Linked DNA regions of Homo sapiens: regions 1 and 3 are each reported to be linked to region 2. The links are microRNA targets in miRTarBase. Many come from high-throughput screens and were not tested one by one. Region 2 holds a microRNA gene; each other region holds the end of a gene's coding sequence.

Evidence for each region. Region 2 holds the annotated microRNA hsa-miR-3605-5p (UGAGGAUGGAUAGCAAGGAAGCC, at 3,038-3,060, shown strand). A microRNA usually pairs through its seed, bases 2 to 8, with sites in the 3' UTR of a target mRNA and lowers its output. Matches are read on the target gene's strand: a 7mer-m8 pairs with bases 2 to 8, a 7mer-A1 pairs with bases 2 to 7 and ends in A, and an 8mer does both.
Region 1: miRTarBase lists GRAP2 as a target of hsa-miR-3605-5p. Seed matches in the 3' UTR shown: 7mer-A1 at 2,436-2,442.
Region 3: miRTarBase lists COL1A1 as a target of hsa-miR-3605-5p. Seed matches in the 3' UTR shown: 7mer-m8 at 2,120-2,126.

The regions. Positions count from the first base shown.
Region 1 is chr22:39,970,270-39,975,269 of GRCh38, forward strand. GRAP2 (GRB2 related adaptor protein 2) reads left to right here. Exons shown (of 8, transcript NM_004810.4): 8 at 636-3,452. The coding sequence ends at 815. Among named protein-coding and RNA genes, the nearest start is that of TMA7B, 12 kb to the left of the region's middle.
Region 2 is chr1:33,330,509-33,335,508 of GRCh38, reverse strand. It overlaps MIR3605 (microRNA 3605), which reads left to right and starts at 3,017; the gene lies at 3,017-3,116. It overlaps PHC2 (polyhomeotic homolog 2), which reads left to right. Exons shown (of 15, transcript NM_001385109.1): 10 at 1,217-1,419; 11 at 3,105-3,234; 12 at 4,047-4,161. RefSeq lists an enhancer at 4,925-5,000.
Region 3 is chr17:50,181,421-50,186,420 of GRCh38, reverse strand. COL1A1 (collagen type I alpha 1 chain) reads left to right here. Exons shown (of 51, transcript NM_000088.4): 49 at 1-104; 50 at 401-643; 51 at 773-2,320. The coding sequence ends at 919. Among named protein-coding and RNA genes, the nearest start is that of COL1A1, 18 kb to the left of the region's middle. RefSeq lists enhancers at 1,038-2,028, 3,604-4,499, 4,959-5,000.

The DNA of each region.
Region 1 (5,000 bases), not on the chromosome of region 2:
AAGCTCTTGCTATATTGCCCAGGCTGGTCTGGAACTCCTGGGCTCAAGCAATCCTCCTACCTCAGCCTCCCACAGTGCTGGGATTACAGGCATGAGCCACCGTGCCTGGCCTGTGATCCATCTTGACTTGTGACTTGATTGCCCTAACACCAAGGGCTGTTGTTTGGGGCATGTTGCCCTTCTGTTTGTCACTCAAGATAAAAATACCACCTATTGATGTGGAGAGAGTGGTTCTCAGGGAGTCTATTGGGGCTTTGGACAATAACATCTGTTGGTAAAAGTCCTGGGTCTCCAGAGTGACGCTGGTGCGTTCTGGGAACTTCTTGCTCAGGCCTGTGCATAGGTATCTGATTTAAATTGCAGCAGGGTAGCCGGGCATGGTGGCTCACACCTGTAGTTCCAGCTACTTGGGAGGCCAAGGCAGGAGGACTTCTTGAGGCCAAGGGTTCAAAACCAGCCTGAGCAACATAGCAAGACCCCATCTCTACAAAAAAAGTTTTTTTAAGCTGCAGAGGGGTCAGCCTTCAGGGAATGTTGCTCTCAAAGACTTGGATGTGGTGGGAGGAGCCAGCAGACCCTCCCCTGCCTGCCCAGCCCACAGCTCAGCAGAGCCTCTTCTGTGCTTCCCCCAACAGCGAGTGCGGTGGGCCCGGGCGCTGTATGACTTTGAGGCCCTGGAGGATGACGAGCTGGGGTTCCACAGCGGGGAGGTGGTGGAGGTCCTGGATAGCTCCAACCCATCCTGGTGGACCGGCCGCCTGCACAACAAGCTGGGCCTCTTCCCTGCCAACTACGTGGCACCCATGACCCGATAAACTCTTCAGGGGACAGAAGCTTTTTGTCTGGAGCTGCCCACAAGAAAGAGGGCAAGGAAAAAAGGCTGGACTCCATGACTATATATACATACATCTATCTACATCTGCCTGTGTACACACACAACTTTTTATACTAGTAATTTATTGGCAATTGGGCTGGTAATTAGTTGATGCAAAAGGGAACTCAGGTGGAGAATAATATTGACACTTGCTTTTCTGCCCCCCTCAGGGGTGTGTGGAAGGCAGTGGGGGAGTTGGGAGGGGGGCAGGGAAATGAAATGGAGTTTTGTCCTGGCCTTCAGCTGTCACTGCTTCCTCCTTGTCTTGGGAATTTTCACGGAGAACAGCTAAGCAGAGACCACACCTCGGCACTGGACACAGAACAACAGGGTGGGGTTGAACTTGGTGGGGCACGTTCTAGCTGACCTGCAAGCCCCGCTCACCTGGAGGGCTTGCAGAGCAGCTCTCCTCCTGTTCTCCAAGGGGTGGGCACTGTTGCATTAGGAATTAAGGTGCAGCCCAGTGCTGCGGGCAGCCAAGCGAGTCTGAGCGGGGATGTGAAGGCAGGACGGGGTTGGAGAGACCCTGCCTGTGCAAGGCTGGCCTCCTAGTCAACACCTAGCTGAGACATTCATCTCTGTTCAAATTAATATTCCTTGGGTCTTTCAAATGAATGTTTCAATGTGAGGAGCGAAGTACTGGGAAATCGAGGGATTTTCCACAATCCCCAAGCAGCTTACTCAGTGGAACCTCTGTTTCCCCAGCTATGAAGGAAATAGCATCCTACATTCCGTAAAGTGCTTGAAGAAGCTCTAGCTGAGAATGCTGAATTTTACAGTCATTGTTTTATGGTTACAAGGGTATGTCTTCAGGGCTCTGTTCATTTTCCCTCTTGATTTTCTCTTTTGAAGATGCCTTGCCCAGTGGCATGGAAAGAAGCCCACTTGATGATAGGAGCCTGACTATGAATTGATTGACTAAACATGACCCCAGGTGGAAGCTGGCTTTGACACCAGCTTCCTGTTCAGTCTGACCACTGCTGTCCTCCTGCTGCCCAAGAGTTGCACCTGGAGCAAGGAACCCCACCATGGCTGTCGCTCTCCATCCCATCACGCTAGAATCATGTGTCCAAGGGCTCACTCTGGAGGTGCACAGCACAGGTCAGCCTGGCCAGGGGCGAAGGAGACAGTAGAGAGGAAGCTCAGGGCCTTAGGGGAGGCCGGGTGCAAACCCGTTCTGCACCAAGTGCACTCGGAGTTTGTGGGTATGGGTGTGTACCCCTGCAGGTGTGCACATGTGTGCTTGCACGCACATATTTGTGCACTCCTGTGTGTATACATGTGTGCTTGTGTATGCATATGTGTGCATTCCTGCATGTGTGGACATGTGCGTGCATGCATCTGTGTGTCTGTGTGTGTGCTGAGACAGGAAAGGGGGTGAAAGTGTTGGTGAGGGAGCCTGGAAGTTTTCTCTTCCCCAACCTCTCTTGCTCTAAGGAGGGATGGGGTTGGGGGCAGCCGTTATTGAAGGTGATCGGAGAAGAAAGATTTTCTGACTCAGAAGTGACTGCCAGTGTAGCACAAGCAGTGTCCCTTGTGACTGTGATTCTACAGTTCTCTGATCCTCATGTTTCCTTTAGAGGAAAGAGGAAAAAAGGAACTCTGTGGTGGGTATTGGGAGGGAAAAGAAAATAGCCTGGTGGAGGCAGGAGGGAGTCGAGTGTGAGTAAGGAGCACCTGCAGCTTTTGGAAGTGAAAGCAGAGAGAGGGAAAGGTAGCTAAGACATCCAGGAGGATCAAGGGGCAGCGTGAGAGGCACAGGGGGAGGAAAGGGAGAGGGTGAGTGGGGCCAGGGAAGAGAACGGTGTGGAGTTGGTGGGCAGATGGTGCAGGAGGAGGGCTGGGCAGTGGGGAGAGGAAGAATCAGAGCAGAGAAACCGCTGCTGCGGAAGGCAGGGAGCAAAGAAGCATAAGGAAAAGAACAGGAGAAAGAACAAAGGCAGAGAAGACCTCCTCAGCTATTTTGGTGCTAGGTAATGTGAAATGCTGCAGTAAATAAAAGCCATAAGTAATGTTTGATTTTACAGTATTTACAAACCATATGCTTTAAACAGCCCACAAACTCCATCCAGTTGTCTGATGATGTGGGAGGACCAGCTCTAGTTAGACGGAGGTATGTGATTCGATTCTGGTGGAGACTTTGTGCCTTGAAAGGCTTCTCAGGAAAGCAGTAATAAAACAAAGTGTCCTTGTTTGGCCAGGCCGTGTCTGGTGTCTGCGTTGCATACCCCTCAGGTAGAGAGTGAGAACGAGACCAGGGGGTGACAGGGGTCATCGGCCTGCAGGAGCTGACCCCGTAGGCAGGCGGTATGAGCAGAGCTTTCAGAACCCCTGGAGCTCGGTGTTCTGTTGTAGCAAAAGCTACTGAAGAGTATTTTGTACTGAGATGCCAAAGCATCTTTCCCTTGCTCATCAGCCTCCATTCAGAAGGAAGCGGGAAAGTCACCCAAACCACCTACAAGGAATGAGGGCTCTTAGCGGCCAGGTAAAGAGGACAAGAACCAAACTGTCCACATTATGGAGGGGAGGGGGAAAGAGAGCTCAACCCCCCTCAGCCTCTGGTGCTGCCAGGGGGAGCCCCTCCGCATGTGTCCCCACGGGCCCTAGTTTCTACCTGACAGCATTTCAGCACCAGAGGAGGGTTGAGCCAGCTCCTCTCACCAGCCACAGAACCAGCAGCCAACAAACACATTGTCCCCGAGTTTGGCTGCAACACTCTATGTGACTTGGGAACTTGAAGCTTCCAGAGAAAAGCCAGGTCCTGTTGGACCAGTTGTTGGGTTTTCCTAACCACTTGCTGTGCCTCACCGCATTTCAAATATCTGGCACCTGCCACTGCCCACCCACTTTTAGATGGCCCTAGGGTGATCTAACCATGGTGCTTCTCAAAATTTAAAGTGCCTACGAATTGCCTGGGGACCGTGTTGAAATGCAGCTTCCAACTTGGTCCTGAATTTCTAACAAGCTACTGGGTGCTGTTGCTAGGTCCACATGTTAAGGAGCAAAGGCAAAGAACTTAGCAGTGAGCACAACTCTAATTGGGCTCTTCTTCTGAGGATATTCGGCCATTTTTTCTTCGCTGCTAACGAATAGGTCACTTTGGCTTTGGGACAGATGCAATTCAGAACGGTCATTATGACGTCATTCATATTTGGCTACCCAGGTGACTTATTATTTTAGCATCCTTATCTCTAGAATTAAAAAAATGTAATGTGAGAGGAATTCAGATGAAATGCAAACAGGAATTTCCTATAATAATTACTATTTCCTAATAGTAATTATTTTAAACATCAGCAGAGATTGCAGAAGTTGTAAAAGCTTTGTCAGGAAATCTTCAGTCATAAAATTGACTCTGGTCAGATGTGGCCCTGGTTGAGGCAGGGGACTGTGCTCCCAGCTAACCTAAAACACAACAGCCCACACTCGGGACAGATTAGCATGGCCAAAATATTTACTGTTTGCCTTGTCTAAGCCAACATTTTAGCCCCTCTATACCAAGGCAAGTGTGTGAGAAAAACCTTGATTGTCTCAATGCTTTTTAAAAAATGCCTCCTCAGTTCCTCCACTTTACTCCATCACCTTGGCCATGCCACCATCATCTCTTCCTTTGGCAACTGTCAGCTTTCATACCTTTCTCCCTGCATTCTCTCCCGTAATCTGGTCCTCCACACAGATGCCAAAGCGATCTTTGTAAAAATAAATCCGATCACATCACTCCCCTTCCCACTGGATTTAGGCTTAAGTCCAAAGTCCTAATGTGGCCCTGTGAAGTCCGGCCCCTGCCTCCCTCCTCAGCCTCCTCTTCTGCCTCCCCTGCCCCTTGCTTTTATGCTCCTGCCCCACTGGCCTTTCAGCCTCCAAATGGCCAAGGATTTGTCCCCAAACCTTTCACACTTGCCATTCTTGCTACCTGGAGGCACATCCCCTGCTAACCCTGCTAACTCTTGTTCATCTCCAGGTCTGGGTTGGTTTTTTGTTTTCTGTTTTTTGTTTTTTGTTTTTGTTTTTGTTTTTGTTTTTGTTTTTGTTTTGAGATGGGGTCTGGCTCTGTTGCCCAGGCTGGAGTGCAGTGGCACAGTCTCAGCTCACTGCAGCCTCTGCCTCCCAAGTTCAAGTGATTCTCCCA
Region 2 (5,000 bases):
GCATCTTCATATAAAGTTTTATGCAAAGATTACTTAACAAGTGTGCTGAAATCACTTTTAAAGTATATATCACTCATACCTCACTGGGGTATGCTTTATATTAATGGACTTGTTGCAATAAAGAAATGGCTTTTTCTTTTCTTTTTTAGGAAGTTCCAGGTTAAAGGCAGCCTCAGCTCACGGGGCAGTTGATGGTGGTAGAGAACAGCCCTGGGAAGGGGGCGGGAGAGAGTTACAGAAGTGAGGAGATGAAGTCTTGCACGTCTAAGACAATGAGACAGCTCATGAGAGATGCTGTTTGAAGTGGAAGAGAGGAAGTTCACTGTCGTGTGGTTGTGTATAGGCATGTAATCTCACTTTCTGGAGCACTCTGTTAGGTCTTTTAGAGGAAGGCTAGCAGGCCCATGGGGAAGGAGAATTAGGAAAGGTTGTCCACAGAGAGACAGAGGATCTATGATTTGGTGAGGATCAGATTAGATAAGAAGCTGACATCTGGGCATGAGGACTGATTTTGAGAGCACTCAGCTCAGCAGAAACAGCAGAGAAAATCTCAGCCTCTGCCTAGCAGCCTTCTTAGCAGAGAAATGGAATTTCTGCATATTTCAATGCACTGACCCCAGATGACCAGTCTCTGAATAGTCAAATATACATGATAGCCTTTACTTGGGGTTCAGCACCCACATTCCCTTGGCATCAATTTCTGGGGTTCAGTGTTTTGACATTTCACAGGGCTCTTAAAATCCCTCCTCTAAGGAACCTCGTAGAAGCTTCTCTTTATCACACTCAAAGCCCTATACCTAGCTCAGCTTCTTGTCCTGGTTTTAGATGTCACCTTGAATACTTTTCTCCCTCAAACTGAGTATTAACCTTATTTGTTCAAATCAGTATCGACCAAGGTCTTAACTCCTCAAAGATAGAATTCCCGTCTGTTTATCCGGGTTAACTGTTCATAGCACGGTTGGGAAATGAAGAAACACTGCTAGCTGATTAGCTGCATGCGTTGTTGTGGAACTGACTATACTCATACTTGGTGATGTGTCCATTGAAACTGTGCCACTTTTAAATGGGTCACTGAGGGGAGGGGACTGCTTGGTTTGCATTGTCGCTTGGCCCCACGGTAAAAGCCGGGCGCAGTTTGAGTCCTTGCTGTCCCTCCCTGGGCGTGGACTCTGGTTCTGATCTCCCCTGCTTTGTTTTCCTACTCTCTCTCGTGCAGAGACAGGGCAGGGCATTGTTCATGCACTGACCGACCTCAGCAGCCCCGGCATGACCTCAGGGAACGGAAACTCTGCCTCCAGCATCGCCGGCACTGCCCCCCAGAATGGTGAGAATAAACCACCACAGGCCATTGTGAAACCCCAAATCCTGACGCATGTTATCGAAGGGTTTGTGATCCAGGAGGGGGCGGAGCCTTTCCCGGTACGGACTACTTCTTTTCCCCTTTTTTTTTTAAGTATATTTTGGATGTGTCTTAGAATATTTTTACATTTCCATGTAAAATTTCTGAAAATGTGAACAATTTGCTCTTTCCTTGCTAACTTCCTCCCCCAAAGAATATAGAGCCATTTCTTTCTAGGATTATCTTTCCAAGGTCCAGAAGAGGGGGGTCAGTGATCAGGAATAATTGACAAGACCCTTGGTTAGAAGTTTCCCACACAAACTCAGGTGTGTCCCTGCCTGTTGATGTGTGAACCCTTGGTTAAAAGGGAGTTCACTGTGGGATATTTGGTGAGAGATGATGGGTTTTGGGAAATTAGATTTCATTGAGTTTTGAATGCCAAAACCTCTGAATGGCAAAACTTCGGCCAGTTAGGAACAAAAGGAATTGCACAGAACAGAATTCTCCAGATACGTGTATCAGAAATGAATGTGAGGAAACAGGGTCACAACCTGAAGCTTGTTTTCTGGGGACAGAGCCTTGAAAGGGGAGTTAATGAGATTGAGGGGCACTCAGAAAGGTCACGATGGAAGCCTAAGACTAACAAGAAATATCCACGAGCCACGAAGATGGGTTATTGACCAAAGCACCCAGAGCTGCTTCTGTGCAGTGTGCACTGGAGACAGTGGTGCTGCCCTGTGGGTGTGGAGGAGCCCAGAGCCAGCGGCACACCAGCCTCTGTTCTGATGAAAAGTATCTGGCTGTTGGAGAAGACACCTTTCTGGGATACCATCTGCCTTTTCCTCATTCTTTGGTTCCATGAGTGGTTTGATTAGTCTGCAGAAGACGCGGAGCTTGATTAACTGAGATGGGTGAACTGCTCCTGTAAAATGCCAAAAGACACATAGCTTCTTGTCTTCTTTCCCACTGGAGGTTGTCCAAGGCCAGTGGCAAAGAAATCTGCCTGGAACACCTTAGCTAGAAGTGGCTCTCGCTCTGTTACATCCCTTCCCTGTTAGACTGGGCCTCCTAGAGTAACACTAGAAACCACCTGATCTCATGGGGTGGAGGCAGATTGCATAGCACCCCCAGCATTGCCCTAGAGTCGGTGCCACGTGACTGGCTACCAGGCTGCCTAAACACAGGCCACAAAAGGAGATCTAAACGCGTAAATAAGCTGCTCTGGGGTTCTGACAACTGAGAGTTCATTGGCTCTGTGGCCCAGGGTCTGTTTTTTCCTGCTATACTCTGTGGCGGCCTGTACCTCTGGCTTGGGTCAGGCATTGGGGTAAGGTGGAGAACAGTAAAAAAATCAGAAAATGGGTGCTGAGTCTCTCTCTCGTATGTACAGCCTCACACAGACTCCGCTCTGTCCTTGCCTGGAGATGCGTGGGTACTGGGTCTTGGTGCTTGATCTGGCACTGTGGGAAACCTGATCTCAGCCCTTAGACTCTTACTGGAATAGACATTTTCCTAATCTCCTGAGCCATCCGTTGGTCCTGGACAGAAGCCATCCCTGTACTTTGCCCATTAGCATCTTACCTCGTGAGCCAACCAGCAAAATAGGGCCTTGAGCCCAGCACACTTGGATGATGACATGGGGGAAGGTTTGAGGAGGGCTGGCCTCTGTGCCTGGATACTTTATACGTGTAATTGTGATGAGGATGGATAGCAAGGAAGCCGCTCCCACCTGACCCTCACGGCCTCCGTGTTACCTGTCCTCTAGGTGGGACGCTCGTCCCTGCTGGTGGGGAATCTCAAGAAGAAGTATGCACAGGGGTTCCTGCCTGAGAAACTTCCACAGCAGGATCACACCACCACCACTGACTCGGAGATGGAGGAGCCCTATCTGCAAGGTGGGCATCTCAGACCCTGAATCTCTCGGCCTCCCAGCGTGGCTGGAAAGGCAGGCCTCACACACTTCCTCTCTCTGTTTCCCCAGAGGAACCCTGAGCCAGCGAGTCTGTAAACATTTCCCCCAGCACCTCCTCAGCCTCCTTCCCTCAAAAAGAGGGATAGGGGAAATCACGGGAACCATGTGTCCTCTGCTCCCCCAATCCCCCTCCAGCCAACCACAGGATCCCAAGAATGGCTTTTCCTGTGGGAATCATTGGCAAGTTTTAGGCATGACTGTAGGAGTGGCCCCAGGCAAGTCCTGCCCTTCGTCCCTGCCTTGAGACTGGGGCCAGCTCTAGGTCACAGCAGAGACCAGGCAAGGCTGCTCTTTCCACATGAAGCACTGACAGAGCTGCACAGCTGCAGGAGCGTGGGCTCCTGAGGTCTTTTACTGGGTCAGCAGCCAGCTGCATAGATCAAGGTGTGATGATGCCAGCGGAGCAGCTGTGACAGCATCCAGAGTATTTCCTGGGGGCTCCTGCTTTCTTCCACAGTCATTTGATGCTGATTCTTCCCCACCTGTGTTTTGCCTCAGACTCAGACCACGTGGAAGAAAAAAATGTCAAGTCTACAAGGGGCATCCCCAGACACCCTTGAGTGCATTCCAGGGGTGAGAACCACTGGCATTTTCCATGCTAGAATGCTGCTGTATGTCACAGCTGTGGGAGCAGGAGGACCAGGCAGGATGGAGTAGGGAGGCCCCGTGGTGGGGCTGGCCACAGTCCTGCAGGAATTTCTCATTCTCCACCCTACCCATTTCTATACTTTTCAGAATCCAAAGAGGAGGGTGCTCCCCTCAAACTCAAGTGTGAGCTCTGTGGCCGGGTGGACTTTGCCTATAAGTTCAAGCGTTCCAAGCGCTTCTGTTCCATGGCTTGTGCAAAGAGGTGAGTGGCCCCAGCCCCCTCCATTTCCCCAGGACTGCACTTTATGTCCCACCTCCTGCCATTAATAGTCTACCCCAGGAGGTCCATAGGGGTGGCTTCTCCAGTTTCCTAGTTCCTCGACCCACCTGGAAGCAGGATGGCATCCCTAATTCAACAAGCACGAGAAGCCAGAACCCCTAAGAGCAGGTGGGAGAGAGCAGCGGGAGTCCAAGGAAAAGCCGCAGTGCTTTGGCTCGGCTGGCCCTCCTGGGCTCCACTGGCACCCATTCGCCTTTCCTAGCATTGACAGCCCCTGCCTTGTTAGGGTAAGCCTTACCCAGAACCACAGCTATAGTGTTCCCTTGGTGAGCTCTCGCCCAGCATAGATCACTAATGGTCATCATAAAAACCACTGCCATTTCCTGAGAACCTGCTGTGTGCTAGTCACTGTGCCAGTCAATTGATACGATTATCTCATCTTCAAAATAACTCCCAAGACAGGTATTACTATTGTCCCCTTTATACAGGTTAGGAAGCCAAAGTACAAAGGAGTAGTAGTGCCTCAGATAACATAGCTAATAAGCCATGGGCCTGGGGATTTAGGCTTGTCCAATTCTAAAGCCATGTGTGGTCTTTGTACCACAATGGAAGCAACAGCTGACCTTGAAGCCCTGAAATCCCAGAAGAGAAGAAATCTCTAGGTCCCAGACAGAGGTGTTCTGCATGCCAAGCTAGAGTTCAGCTATCTTCAGCCCTCATTCCCCTCAGGCTGTTGGAGCAGCCAGGCCACTCCCCAGCAGGACAGTGGACAGTAGTTTCCCGTCACAGGGTAACATTTATAGTGGAATAAGTCAGGTGTG
Region 3 (5,000 bases), not on the chromosome of region 2:
ACCCCACTCAGCCCAGTGTGGCCCAGAAGAACTGGTACATCAGCAAGAACCCCAAGGACAAGAGGCATGTCTGGTTCGGCGAGAGCATGACCGATGGATTCCAGGTGCGTGAGCTGGACCTCAGAGCCAGTGTTAGGAGATGGGCTAGCCCAGTGCTCAGAAGGGACATGAAGTCCTGGAGTAGGTCTCTGCTAAGGGTGATGGACAGAGCTGGGCTGGGAGGCAGGGGTCTCAGGTCCCTGATAGTGGTTCAGACACAGGCTGCCGATGGGCAGGTGGTGCCTCCTCTCGATATAACGGTGCATTGGGCAGCTCTCTGAGGACCCTGGACAGGGAGGCCAGGCAGGACTAGAGGTTCCCGCATAGCGGCTCACTCTTCCCTCTCTCCCCTCCCCTGCAGTTCGAGTATGGCGGCCAGGGCTCCGACCCTGCCGATGTGGCCATCCAGCTGACCTTCCTGCGCCTGATGTCCACCGAGGCCTCCCAGAACATCACCTACCACTGCAAGAACAGCGTGGCCTACATGGACCAGCAGACTGGCAACCTCAAGAAGGCCCTGCTCCTCCAGGGCTCCAACGAGATCGAGATCCGCGCCGAGGGCAACAGCCGCTTCACCTACAGCGTCACTGTCGATGGCTGCACGGTGAGTGCCCAGAATCCCCAGGCAGGGCCCCACCTCTCCGGCCTTGGGCTTTTTGGCCAGGCCATAGTGCCCTCTCTCCATCACTCCCACGTGGTAATGCCCCCTCCCGTTGTCTCCGCCCCACCCCAGAGTCACACCGGAGCCTGGGGCAAGACAGTGATTGAATACAAAACCACCAAGACCTCCCGCCTGCCCATCATCGATGTGGCCCCCTTGGACGTTGGTGCCCCAGACCAGGAATTCGGCTTCGACGTTGGCCCTGTCTGCTTCCTGTAAACTCCCTCCATCCCAACCTGGCTCCCTCCCACCCAACCAACTTTCCCCCCAACCCGGAAACAGACAAGCAACCCAAACTGAACCCCCTCAAAAGCCAAAAAATGGGAGACAATTTCACATGGACTTTGGAAAATATTTTTTTCCTTTGCATTCATCTCTCAAACTTAGTTTTTATCTTTGACCAACCGAACATGACCAAAAACCAAAAGTGCATTCAACCTTACCAAAAAAAAAAAAAAAAAAAGAATAAATAAATAACTTTTTAAAAAAGGAAGCTTGGTCCACTTGCTTGAAGACCCATGCGGGGGTAAGTCCCTTTCTGCCCGTTGGGCTTATGAAACCCCAATGCTGCCCTTTCTGCTCCTTTCTCCACACCCCCCTTGGGGCCTCCCCTCCACTCCTTCCCAAATCTGTCTCCCCAGAAGACACAGGAAACAATGTATTGTCTGCCCAGCAATCAAAGGCAATGCTCAAACACCCAAGTGGCCCCCACCCTCAGCCCGCTCCTGCCCGCCCAGCACCCCCAGGCCCTGGGGGACCTGGGGTTCTCAGACTGCCAAAGAAGCCTTGCCATCTGGCGCTCCCATGGCTCTTGCAACATCTCCCCTTCGTTTTTGAGGGGGTCATGCCGGGGGAGCCACCAGCCCCTCACTGGGTTCGGAGGAGAGTCAGGAAGGGCCACGACAAAGCAGAAACATCGGATTTGGGGAACGCGTGTCAATCCCTTGTGCCGCAGGGCTGGGCGGGAGAGACTGTTCTGTTCCTTGTGTAACTGTGTTGCTGAAAGACTACCTCGTTCTTGTCTTGATGTGTCACCGGGGCAACTGCCTGGGGGCGGGGATGGGGGCAGGGTGGAAGCGGCTCCCCATTTTATACCAAAGGTGCTACATCTATGTGATGGGTGGGGTGGGGAGGGAATCACTGGTGCTATAGAAATTGAGATGCCCCCCCAGGCCAGCAAATGTTCCTTTTTGTTCAAAGTCTATTTTTATTCCTTGATATTTTTCTTTTTTTTTTTTTTTTTTTGTGGATGGGGACTTGTGAATTTTTCTAAAGGTGCTATTTAACATGGGAGGAGAGCGTGTGCGGCTCCAGCCCAGCCCGCTGCTCACTTTCCACCCTCTCTCCACCTGCCTCTGGCTTCTCAGGCCTCTGCTCTCCGACCTCTCTCCTCTGAAACCCTCCTCCACAGCTGCAGCCCATCCTCCCGGCTCCCTCCTAGTCTGTCCTGCGTCCTCTGTCCCCGGGTTTCAGAGACAACTTCCCAAAGCACAAAGCAGTTTTTCCCCCTAGGGGTGGGAGGAAGCAAAAGACTCTGTACCTATTTTGTATGTGTATAATAATTTGAGATGTTTTTAATTATTTTGATTGCTGGAATAAAGCATGTGGAAATGACCCAAACATAATCCGCAGTGGCCTCCTAATTTCCTTCTTTGGAGTTGGGGGAGGGGTAGACATGGGGAAGGGGCTTTGGGGTGATGGGCTTGCCTTCCATTCCTGCCCTTTCCCTCCCCACTATTCTCTTCTAGATCCCTCCATAACCCCACTCCCCTTTCTCTCACCCTTCTTATACCGCAAACCTTTCTACTTCCTCTTTCATTTTCTATTCTTGCAATTTCCTTGCACCTTTTCCAAATCCTCTTCTCCCCTGCAATACCATACAGGCAATCCACGTGCACAACACACACACACACTCTTCACATCTGGGGTTGTCCAAACCTCATACCCACTCCCCTTCAAGCCCATCCACTCTCCACCCCCTGGATGCCCTGCACTTGGTGGCGGTGGGATGCTCATGGATACTGGGAGGGTGAGGGGAGTGGAACCCGTGAGGAGGACCTGGGGGCCTCTCCTTGAACTGACATGAAGGGTCATCTGGCCTCTGCTCCCTTCTCACCCACGCTGACCTCCTGCCGAAGGAGCAACGCAACAGGAGAGGGGTCTGCTGAGCCTGGCGAGGGTCTGGGAGGGACCAGGAGGAAGGCGTGCTCCCTGCTCGCTGTCCTGGCCCTGGGGGAGTGAGGGAGACAGACACCTGGGAGAGCTGTGGGGAAGGCACTCGCACCGTGCTCTTGGGAAGGAAGGAGACCTGGCCCTGCTCACCACGGACTGGGTGCCTCGACCTCCTGAATCCCCAGAACACAACCCCCCTGGGCTGGGGTGGTCTGGGGAACCATCGTGCCCCCGCCTCCCGCCTACTCCTTTTTAAGCTTTTTCTTTCTTTCTTTCTTTTTTTTCTTAAATTCTTGCTTCCTCTTCCCCCCTCTTCTCCGTCCCTTCTCTTTCCCTTCACCTTCTGCCTGCTCCTTCCCAGAGGCCCTGAGAAGGCGAGGCCCGGAGGGAAGGTGACTGTTCGGCTCCCCCATCTCAGGTAAGGGGGACAGCGAGTGTGGTCAGCGGGGGACAGAGAATCCAGGGCGTCAGAAGTCCAGAGAGAACCAGGCACCCGGAGCCAGGGAGACAGCGAGACGACAGCTGGTCACCTCTCTCACCTCATCTCAGGTCTAAACCCAAAAAGAACAAAAAGCCCGCACTCCTCCCTAAGGTCTCCAGAGAGATGGACAAGTCTGTAGATACCATCCATCAGCAATACTAATATCGTGATGTCATTAAGTATTCATGGCCGTTCATTATGGCCTTCAATAATTCATCATTAGCACTTCTACCACACTTAGGACAGTGTAGAAAGGGAATCAGTGTAGAGAGGATAAGAATGATGGCATATAAATGAAGGCTTATTCATATGCAAATTACCCAAAGTTGTGTGATGCCTATCCATCTCTCTTTCTCTCTTTTTTTTGAGACAGAGTCTCACTCTGTCACCCAGGCTGGAGTGCGGTGGCGCAGTCTCAGCTCACTGCAACCTCCGCCTCCCAGGTTCAAGCAATTCTCATGCCTCAGCCTCCCAAGTAACTGGGATGACAGCCATGCACTACCACGCCCAGCTAATTTTTATATTTTTAGTAGAGTCAGGGTTTTACCATGTTAGCCAGCCTGGTCTCGAACTCCTGGCCTCAAGTGATCCACCTGCCTCAGCCTCTCAAAGTGCTGGGATTGCGGACATGAGCCACAGCACCAGGCTCCATCTCTTGATCAATGTGTTGATTGCTTGGTGATGCCTGCCATGCTGCCCAGGAAACCCTGTCCACTTGGACCTCTGGGACTTTAGGACCCTGGCTGTCCAGGCCACATCCCCATCTGCCCTCGTGGGGGACCCAGGGACATCCTGAGCCTGGCATCCAAGGCTCTACCTGGCCACTACCCACCTGCCCAGGCTCACTGTCCCCTCCCCTGCCCACATCTGTCACACCAACCAAAAAGGGTGGCCAACAGTTCTCACAAATGCACTGCATTTCCCCACTTCCAGGCCTTCTAGATGTCCTTTCTCTCTGCATGCTCAACACCCTACTGTCCGGGCCATGCTCAAATGTCTCATTCTCTTCCCATTCCCTTGCCCAACCCAGCCTGAGCTCAGCCCCTCTGAGTTTCCAAAGCTCTCCAGATCCACATAGCTCCCCTCGGTCCTTCATCCTAGGATTGTGGATGTGGTCATGTTTCCATCCTGTTATTCTCTCCAGACTAGAGGCCAGGTGTTGCAATGCAGGGCTAGGCAGAGTCTGTGCTTAGGTACTGGGGAGACTAAAGAGAGAGAGACTGAGCTAGAGAGGCCACCCATTAGGTGAGAGCATGGCGCTGTGTGTGCTTGGTGCACAGGAGTGAGCGAGTGTGAGAGGAAGAGCAAGTGGAAGGCCCATGGGGGAGCAGACAGCAACGGAGGGCGCAGGGCAGGGCTTTCTGCAGCAACAGACATGTCCTAGAGCTGCACCGCCCAGTGCGGTAGCCGCTAACCACATGCAGCTGTTGAGCATGTGAGATGCAGTTAGTGTGACTGAGGAATGCAGTTTCCACTTTTACTGAATTGCAATTAGTTTTACTAACTATATGTGGGATAAGGGTTACCATACGGGGCAGCAGAGCTGTAGGCAAAGGAGTGAATATGCCTCTTGTCACCTCTGTACAAATCTACATGTGGGTACGTGGGTGTGTGTGCACACGCGTGGGCATGTATGTGGACACACGC